Homo sapiens: one gene and its partner. The protein of the gene in region 1 interacts with the protein of each later gene in a biochemical or structural test. Each region holds a gene or a part of one and is shown on either strand. Other genes may lie near its edges.

Region 1 (3,500 bases):
CAGGAGAATTCCCTGAACCTGGGAGGCGGAGGTTGCAGTGAGCCGAGATCGTACCACTGCACTCCAACCTGGGTGACAAGAGTGAGACTTCATCTTTGCGGGGAAAAACAAAACCCACACACAAAAACTAGCTGGGCTTGGTGGCACACATCGGTAGCCCCAGCTGCTCAGGAGGCTGAGTGGGAGGATCACTTGAGCACGGGAGTTGGGGCTACAGTGAGCTACAATCGCACCACTGCATTCCAGCCTGGGGGACAGAGCAAGGCTGTATCTCAAAAATTTTTTTGACCAGGTGCGGTGGCTCACATCTGTAATCTCTGCACTTTGGGAGGCTGAGGCAGGTGGATCACCTGAGGTCAGGAGTTTGAGGCCAGCCTGGACAACATGGTGAAAGCCTGTTTCTACTAAAAATACAAAAATTAGCCGGGTGTGGTGGCGGGTGCCTGTAATCGTAGCTACCTGGGAGGCTGACTGGAGAATTGTGTGAGCCTGGGAGGCTGAGACTGCAGTGAGCTGAGATTGCTTCACTGCACTCCAGTCTGGGCGACAGAGTGAGACTCTGTCCGACTCTCAAGAAAAAAACAAAACTGAAAGCCACATTCCAGTATTAGAAGGCACCCGGTTGGGTGTCTGTAGCTGGCATCTCTTCTTTTCTTACAGGCACAGAAAGTAACGGGCTGTCTAGGGGGGTGGCATCTCCAATCCGCCAATCAGCTGTCGAGGGGTTTGAAGGTCGCTGACGGTGGCTGTGGTATGGGAAAGCACTCGGGATGCAGGCTGGGCTGAGGGCAGGAGGATGATGCCCGGGGCCCTCCTCTGAGGGTGTAGTCCCCGCTGGGGAGGCGAGTTTTGGTGAACAGCTGGGCTTCCGAGGATATCAGAGGATGGGGGTTTAAGGGGACACCGAAGTACGCACGGCCTCGGGGGACCTGCTTGCCAGTGTGCAGAACAGGGATGGTCACCCTCTAGTTTGCAGGGAAAGGAGCCTGGGGGGCTGAGAGCTGCCTCCAGCCTCTCATGAGGGCAAAGAAGCCCGGGGTCTCATCCTGTGGGTGCGGGACCAGCACCAGGCAGGAGCGGCGGAGCTCAGAGCCCAGAGCTGTTCCCACGCACACACCCTCTGCTCCCCGCAGCCAGCCCAGGATGGCTTCTCTCATGGATGAGAGAGACCCACAGAGGGTCCTCGGCGTGGCCTGGCACACCCGGCCTGCCCACATCCTGGTCGCAGGTGCTGGCTCCCCGGGCAGGGCCAGGCCCAGCAGCCTTATTTCCTGGGGCCTGGGTGGCAGCCTGCACCCTCCCGGTCCCAGAACCCGCTGGCATCACTCACTGTGAGCATCTTCAGGTCCGCCCGCTCCGCTGGGTTCTTGATGAGGCTGGGGGTTCCAAGAGGCAGGACCGGGAGGCGGTGGAGGAGACAAGACAGGGCAGTCAGCTGGTGGCCCCGGGGCACCCGCGTGTGGGCCGTGGTCGGAGGGGGCCTGGATCTCTCCGACCAGAGAGAGTGGCACAGAGTGGCTGCTCTGTTCTGCCTCCTGGCAGAGGACGAGGGATCCACCTCTGCACTTTGGTGCCAGGGGCAGGACACCCCCCAGCGGGAGGGTGAGAGGGAAAGAGGGTGGGAAACCCCGCCTGGTGGGTCAGAAGCCTGGACGCAACCCCAGCTAACTGTCTAATAAAACCCCAGGCCCGGGGCAACATCGCCGGAGCGCACGCCAAGGGCCCGGGGCAACTCCGGCACCAGGAGTGCGGTGCCGTTCCACGGCGTCCCGAGCTCACACACATGGACCGGCCCTGTGGGCAGCGGGGTGTCCGCAGCTCCTTCCCCGTGGTCTGCGGCACATGCCTGTGAAGCCCACGCCACAGGTGCTGCTGGGTGCTTGGGGGCAGGAGAATGGAGTGGGGCTGGCGACCCTCCCAGAACCTGCGGGCGGATCCCGGGGAGCCCACAGTCAGCACACCAGGGGTCCGGGGACCAGACAGAGGCTTCTCCTGCTGCAGACAGTGAGCTGGGGACACCGTCATGTGCACAGGGCCTGCAATCCTGCTTCACCCCTGGGCTCACGGACAGGATGGCATGGCAGCCGGGAGCTGCAGCCCCACAGCTCTGGGAAAAGGAATCTGGCTTCCCGTTGGGCTGAGTCCTGCCTAACGCTGCACTGGGATTCTGGATGGGCAGGCTGGGCCACGGGCCCCACCCAGGACCCGGAAGGAGTGGCACATCTGGGTCCCGGCCAGGGGTGTGGGCAGCCCGGCTCCACCTACCATTTATTGACAAACTCCTGGAAGTCGGGGGTGAACACACCGTTGGGCAGCTTAGGAGGTGGCTGTGGAGGAGAACAGAGGGTGGGGTCAGCCCTGGGCATCGTCAGGGACCCTCGGCTGCAGCCCTCTCTACCCCTCACTGTCCTGTCCGGTCACCCACCCTGCAGGCCTGGCCGACACCACATGCCAACTGGGCTGCACCCTGTCAGAGGTGGCCTTCTCCCGAAAGCTCTCGTTTGAGAGTCACGGCTGCTTAGAGGGAAAGAGTGGGGTGCGTCCCCCTTTTATCAACAGGACAACCTCTCGAGTGTCGTCACTTGCTTCCTTCCCCAGTGTCACTGGCTGAAGGATGAGCTTTGGGACTGGGCCCCACAGAGGGACATCTGGATCCAAAGTTATTTTGTTTTGAGACAGTCTCGCTCTGTTGCCCAGGCTGGAGTGCAATGGCGTGATCTTGGCTCACTGCAGCCTCCACCTCCGGGGTTCAAGGGATTCTCCAGCCTCAGCCTCCTGAGTAGCTGGGATGACAGGTGCCCACCACTGCGCCTGGCTAATTTTTATATTTTTAGTAGAGACGGTATTTCACCAGGTTGGCCAGGCTGGTCTCGAACTCCTGACCTCAGGTGATCCACCCACTGTGGCCTCCCAAAGTGCTGGAATTACACACCTGAGCCACCGTGCCCGGCCAAACTGGGTCCACAGTTTTAAGCCCAAGCACTGGGGAGCCTGGCCTGACACACGTCCCCGGAGCGGGAGTGGCCGTGTAAGCGGTGCCAGCAGGGCAGGGGCAGGCCTTTCCCGCGCAGGGGCAGGGGCGGGAAGAGGCGGGGGAGAGGTCGGGGGATGTGCTCACTGGGCATGGGTGTGGCTGCTAGGTGCAGGGAGAGCTGGGTCACCAGGGCCACCCCACCTGGCTCCGTCATCATCTCGCCACCCAACCCCAGGCCTAGCCCAGTCTGCAGGCAGCTCAAATGCCCGTTTCTCTGCCCCAGCTCCAAAGGGCCACCAAAGACACAGAAACCCACAGAAGGCCCAGGGAGGTGGCCCGGCCTGGTCACGTGGCCAACAGGACCTTGGGGTGCAGTCCTGTGCCTCCCTGACAGCTGCAGGCCTGGAAGGAGGCCGCGTCCCTCCTTGTGCCTTGTTTTACTCATCTGGGCGGTGGAAACCCTCATACTGTGGCTCACTGGGTTGTTATGGGGACTGACGGAGCAGGAGCCACCCCGGGACCTACA
Region 2 (4,241 bases), on another chromosome or scaffold:
ATGCTGACATGGAGTCCAGTCATCATTCAAAACTTTACAAGGTTATTGGAGTTGACTTTGGGGTATTCAAAGCTGCAGTTGCGAATATATATGTAATACAGATAGAACATATATTATAATACATATGTATATATGTACATACATATACAATATATACACTTAAAAACCCTCCTATATTTCAGTAATGTGTAAAGGAATAGGGCAAAATGTAGCAAGACTATCAGCAAGCAGGGGAAAGAATACTTTACAAATACACATTGGAATCAACCTTTTATCTTCAGATTAGGGGTTCTTAAAGAGGTTGTGATGATGACAGAGTCATTCATCCTGCTTCTTTTGGCAAGAACAATATTTTAAAATATGTGCTTTGGTGGCAAAGGCAAAGCTGACAAGAGAGATAGATGTGGACACTGGAGAAACAAAATAGCCCTAACAGTGAGCACACTGTGGTCATTTCAAATGCCCAGAGTATACTAAAAGTATCTGAACATGTAAATTACTCATATATACACAATGAAGGCAAACATACTGCCTTGTTCCAAGTGGGATGAAAAAAAATTTTAATTTCATTAACTATATTAAAAGGATATGACAGTACCTTTAGGAAGATCCAGCTCTCTGCTAACGATGAACAAAATACATTATAGAGGTGCCAAATCATTGCTGATAAACACCTTTACATAGACTGCGATGAGAGTGAAAACAGACCACATGTAATATGCGCAATGATATCTTTTATCACAATACACTTTCCCCCCATTCATTACATACAAATTTCTTGGAGAAAACCTACATAATTATGAGCAAGCAGGGACAAAAAAGGAATTCATCGTTTTCCAAAATGTGCATACTAAAAAAAAAGGGAAGGGTGTGGAATCATTCCTATTCATGTTTCCTGAAGCAAATACAAAGCACGCAGATGCAAACTCCACACAGAAGCCATGTATGACCAAAACATGTCCCCACGTCTCCCCTTCTCCCTCCTTCAATCCCCAACACTCAAACACAAAATGGCAAGTTTGTTTTCTAAAATTATGCAGAACACACACTGCTAATGGAAAATTACAGTTGGAAGTCTTGGCTTTTCAAAGTTTATGAATGAGGGAAGTTATTTCTCTTAACTATATTGCTGGAATTTTTCCACTCTCATTTCAATTCAAAATACAGCGTTTATTCTTCTCTCAACTTCCCATGCCCCTCCCTTCACATCTTTCTAAGTCACCTTCAGACCAGCTCAAAGTTTCAATCTAAAAAGACACTAAAAGCTCATTCCTTAGACCTCCCTACTGTCCCGTGGTTAATGCTACTCACATTTCACATTCCTTTATTTAGCGTAAGAAATGTAATTTATTCTTTCTTTCCACACACATACATGTATTTCTTTAAGGAAAAATACATTATTTTCAAGTATCGTTCGCTTTGGAATTCTTAAACATGTAGTTTTTTCCGTGGAATAATCTTTAAGCCTAATTCGAAGTTTTAAATATGTTAACTAAACCAGCACGTGGCATCAATAACTCCTAAATGACTGCAGGGCTTGTGCACGCCTCAATTTTCAGCAGTTGTTCCTGATTCACATCTGCTTGGAAGACTTTTGCCTCGTTTTAAAAGTCATCTTTTGCGTCCAGTGGAATAACGGCTAGAAGTCCTGATGTTAACCTTCTACAGATAAATGTAGCCCCAAGGCGTTAATGAAGAGACCCGCTCTTTTTCAGGGTGAAAGAAGGGAATGGAAGATCTTGTCTGTGAGGCACAGCTGGGAGGGTAACAGCTCTTCAGCGAATGATCCTAGGATCTCAGTCTCATCAAAGCCGAAAATGAAAAAGCACATGCCCCGGCCCCTACCCCCTGGGCTTGGATGCGGCCCCAGAGAAATCATCCTTCCAGGTGGGCCTTCGGTGTGTTACCTCCTCCACCTGCCCTCCCACCCACCCTTCTTTTCCGCTCCCCCCCTCCACACTGAATACACTGGCTTCTCAGGTATAAGGTGAGCATCCCCACTTCTAGGCACCCCGAGGGAATGCACCCGAGAGCCCTGGCCCAGCTCTGCACCGCGCGCTCTGGGCTGTGCCCCGCAGAGACGCCCCGGGCGAGCCAGGGCGGACTGCGCTGCTCCTCCGGGACGCGCGATGCCGGCAGGCGAACGCCCACCTCTGCCCTAGGAAGCCAGTGACACCGTCGGGGGGCGGGGGTTAGGGCAGCGCCAATCTAAGCGGGACATAAGATGCAGGAGCGGCAGAACCCGCAGAGTCCCCAAAAGTGCACAAGCAAACCAGCTTGTTCACGTCGGCTGGGTCGCCGAAGGAGGCTAAAGTGCAGAGTGACTGGGGCTGCAGTCACCTCGCGACGACCGCCCCGAGGCAGTCAACACCTGCGGAAGGGAAAGCAGTGAAAGGCACTCACCTCCACCCATCTCTGAGCCTCAGCGAACGCCACGGAGCAGTTGGCCTCTGCCTCCTCCAGCCCTTCCATGGCTAGGACAAGGGAGGGAGAGAGAGACTCGGGATGCGTGGAGGGGAGGGGTTGTCCCCGCGCGTCTGGGCCCCACGGGCGGGGAGGGCACGCGGGCCTCCCACAACTCCGGCTTCCGCTCCGGCTGCGAAGGCGCCGGGGCTCTAGTTCCCTTTGTTGCGCTCTGCAGTTCGTTAAGGTCTCGAACCTACACGAACGTGAAGACCTGGCTTTCTCTAAACTCCTGAAAGCGACCCAAGGCCCGCGGGGACCCGGGCAGTCAGGCAGGACGCGGGAAGCGAAGCGGGTGCCCAGCGGCAGCGCGCGGCACCAGCCCCGACGACAGTTTGGACTTCAAAAGTCGCAGCGCCGCCGCCGTCCTCCCCGCGGTGGCCCCGCCCCGGCCCACCCCACCGCCCTCCCGGGGCCCGCCGAGTCGCCGCTTCCGTCTGCCCCTCCCTTGGCTCCCCGGGCTCCCGGCCGCGGCCGCCTCTGTGGTCAGACTGTCTGGCCCGGGAGATGCCACAGTCCGCCAGGGGCCGCGGCCCGGGCCCCGCTGGGGTTCCCGCACAGCCCGCGGCTCCGCCCCGAGAGGATGCGCCCCCGCGCCCGCATCCTTCCCGCACCCGCCCGCCTGGCCCCTGCCCTCTCCCGGGCCCCTGAGAGCGGCGCCCCTCCCGGCTCGCGGCCGCCCGGCCCGCTTGACATACCAGAAATAGCTGCACACAATTGTACCTTTCCCGGCCAAGAAACCTCCCCCGCTGGGGAGCGCGGCCCGCCGCCCTCACCTGAGCCCCGGCCAGCTGAGCCCGCTACCCGCTCTCCCGCCGCGATCCGGCCCAGCCGCCAGGTGAGCGCCGTCCCCTCCCACGCTCCCCGCCCCCTGCGGCGGCCGGGCCCTCCCGGCGGCAGAGGAGGGTCGTGGCCTTGGCACGTGCTGCCGCTTCCCCCCGGCGGAGTTCGGCCCCGCTCCGCCCGGCTTCCAGGTGGGTGCGGTGGAAGGAGGGTCCCTGCCCCTCCACCCCGGCTCGCGGCTGAGGGTTCGAGCAAGCTGGAGGGTTCCTTGCATTCCCCACTTCCCGCCCGCTCAGCCCAGTTTAGGCCGTTTGATGATCGCCCTCGCGGTGAGCGTCAAAATTCCCACCCTTCGTGGTTTGAGGACACTCAGGGGACAGCGAGGTGGCAGGTTATGCGGTATCCGCCGCGGCCCTGGGTAGGTGTGCAGGGCCGGGGGGTTGGGGGCGGGGCGGGAGGCACACGGGTCGGCTTGCGCGGGTCTTTTTCACACCAGTGCTCAAATCAGGTCTCCACAAAGGAGCCTACTCATCTGTCTGAGCTCCCTGGTCCCTCACTCCACGCTCCTGAGGCACTATCCAGGCCACAGGTTGATGGCTTCATCTTTGGCGGAAGACAAAGACCGGTTCTTACTCTGCTGAAACGAAAGCAAACTCTTGTTCTTATTTTTCTGGTTGTTTTTATGAAGAAAAACGTCAGATACAGAGCAGAGACTAGTAGAATACTATCTAAAACCTAGCGTCTGTATTTAACAACTGTTTGCCTTTTGCCTTATGTATCACCTTTTCTGCTGGAGGGTTTTATTTTTTAATTTTTTAAATTGTATTTACTTTCTGTTTGTTTTTGTTTTGTTTTGTTTTGTTTTGTTTTGTTTTGTTTTGAGATGGAGTCTCACTGTTGCCGAGGCTGGAGTGCAGTAGCACCGTGTCGGCTCACTGCAACCTCCGTCTCCTGGGTTCAAGCAATTCTCTTGCCTTAGCCTCTCGAGCAGCTGG

What was found.
Region 2: the proteins of MAP2K2 (region 1) and LMO7 interact in a test that uses a peptide from one of them, tested with the Homo sapiens proteins (one large-scale study listed by IntAct).

What each region holds. Positions count from the first base shown.
Region 1 is NC_000019.10:4,093,123-4,096,622, forward strand, and holds part of MAP2K2 (dual specificity mitogen-activated protein kinase kinase 2), read right to left. Parts: intron 2,328-3,500; coding exon 2,266-2,327; intron 1,377-2,265; coding exon 1,331-1,376; intron 1-1,330. UniProt on the Homo sapiens protein: Catalyzes the concomitant phosphorylation of a threonine and a tyrosine residue in a Thr-Glu-Tyr sequence located in MAP kinases. Activates the ERK1 and ERK2 MAP kinases.
Region 2 is NC_000013.11:75,634,889-75,639,129, reverse strand, and holds the start of LMO7 (LIM domain only protein 7), read right to left. Parts: upstream 2,801-4,241; 5' UTR 2,473-2,800; coding exon 2,404-2,472; intron 1-2,403.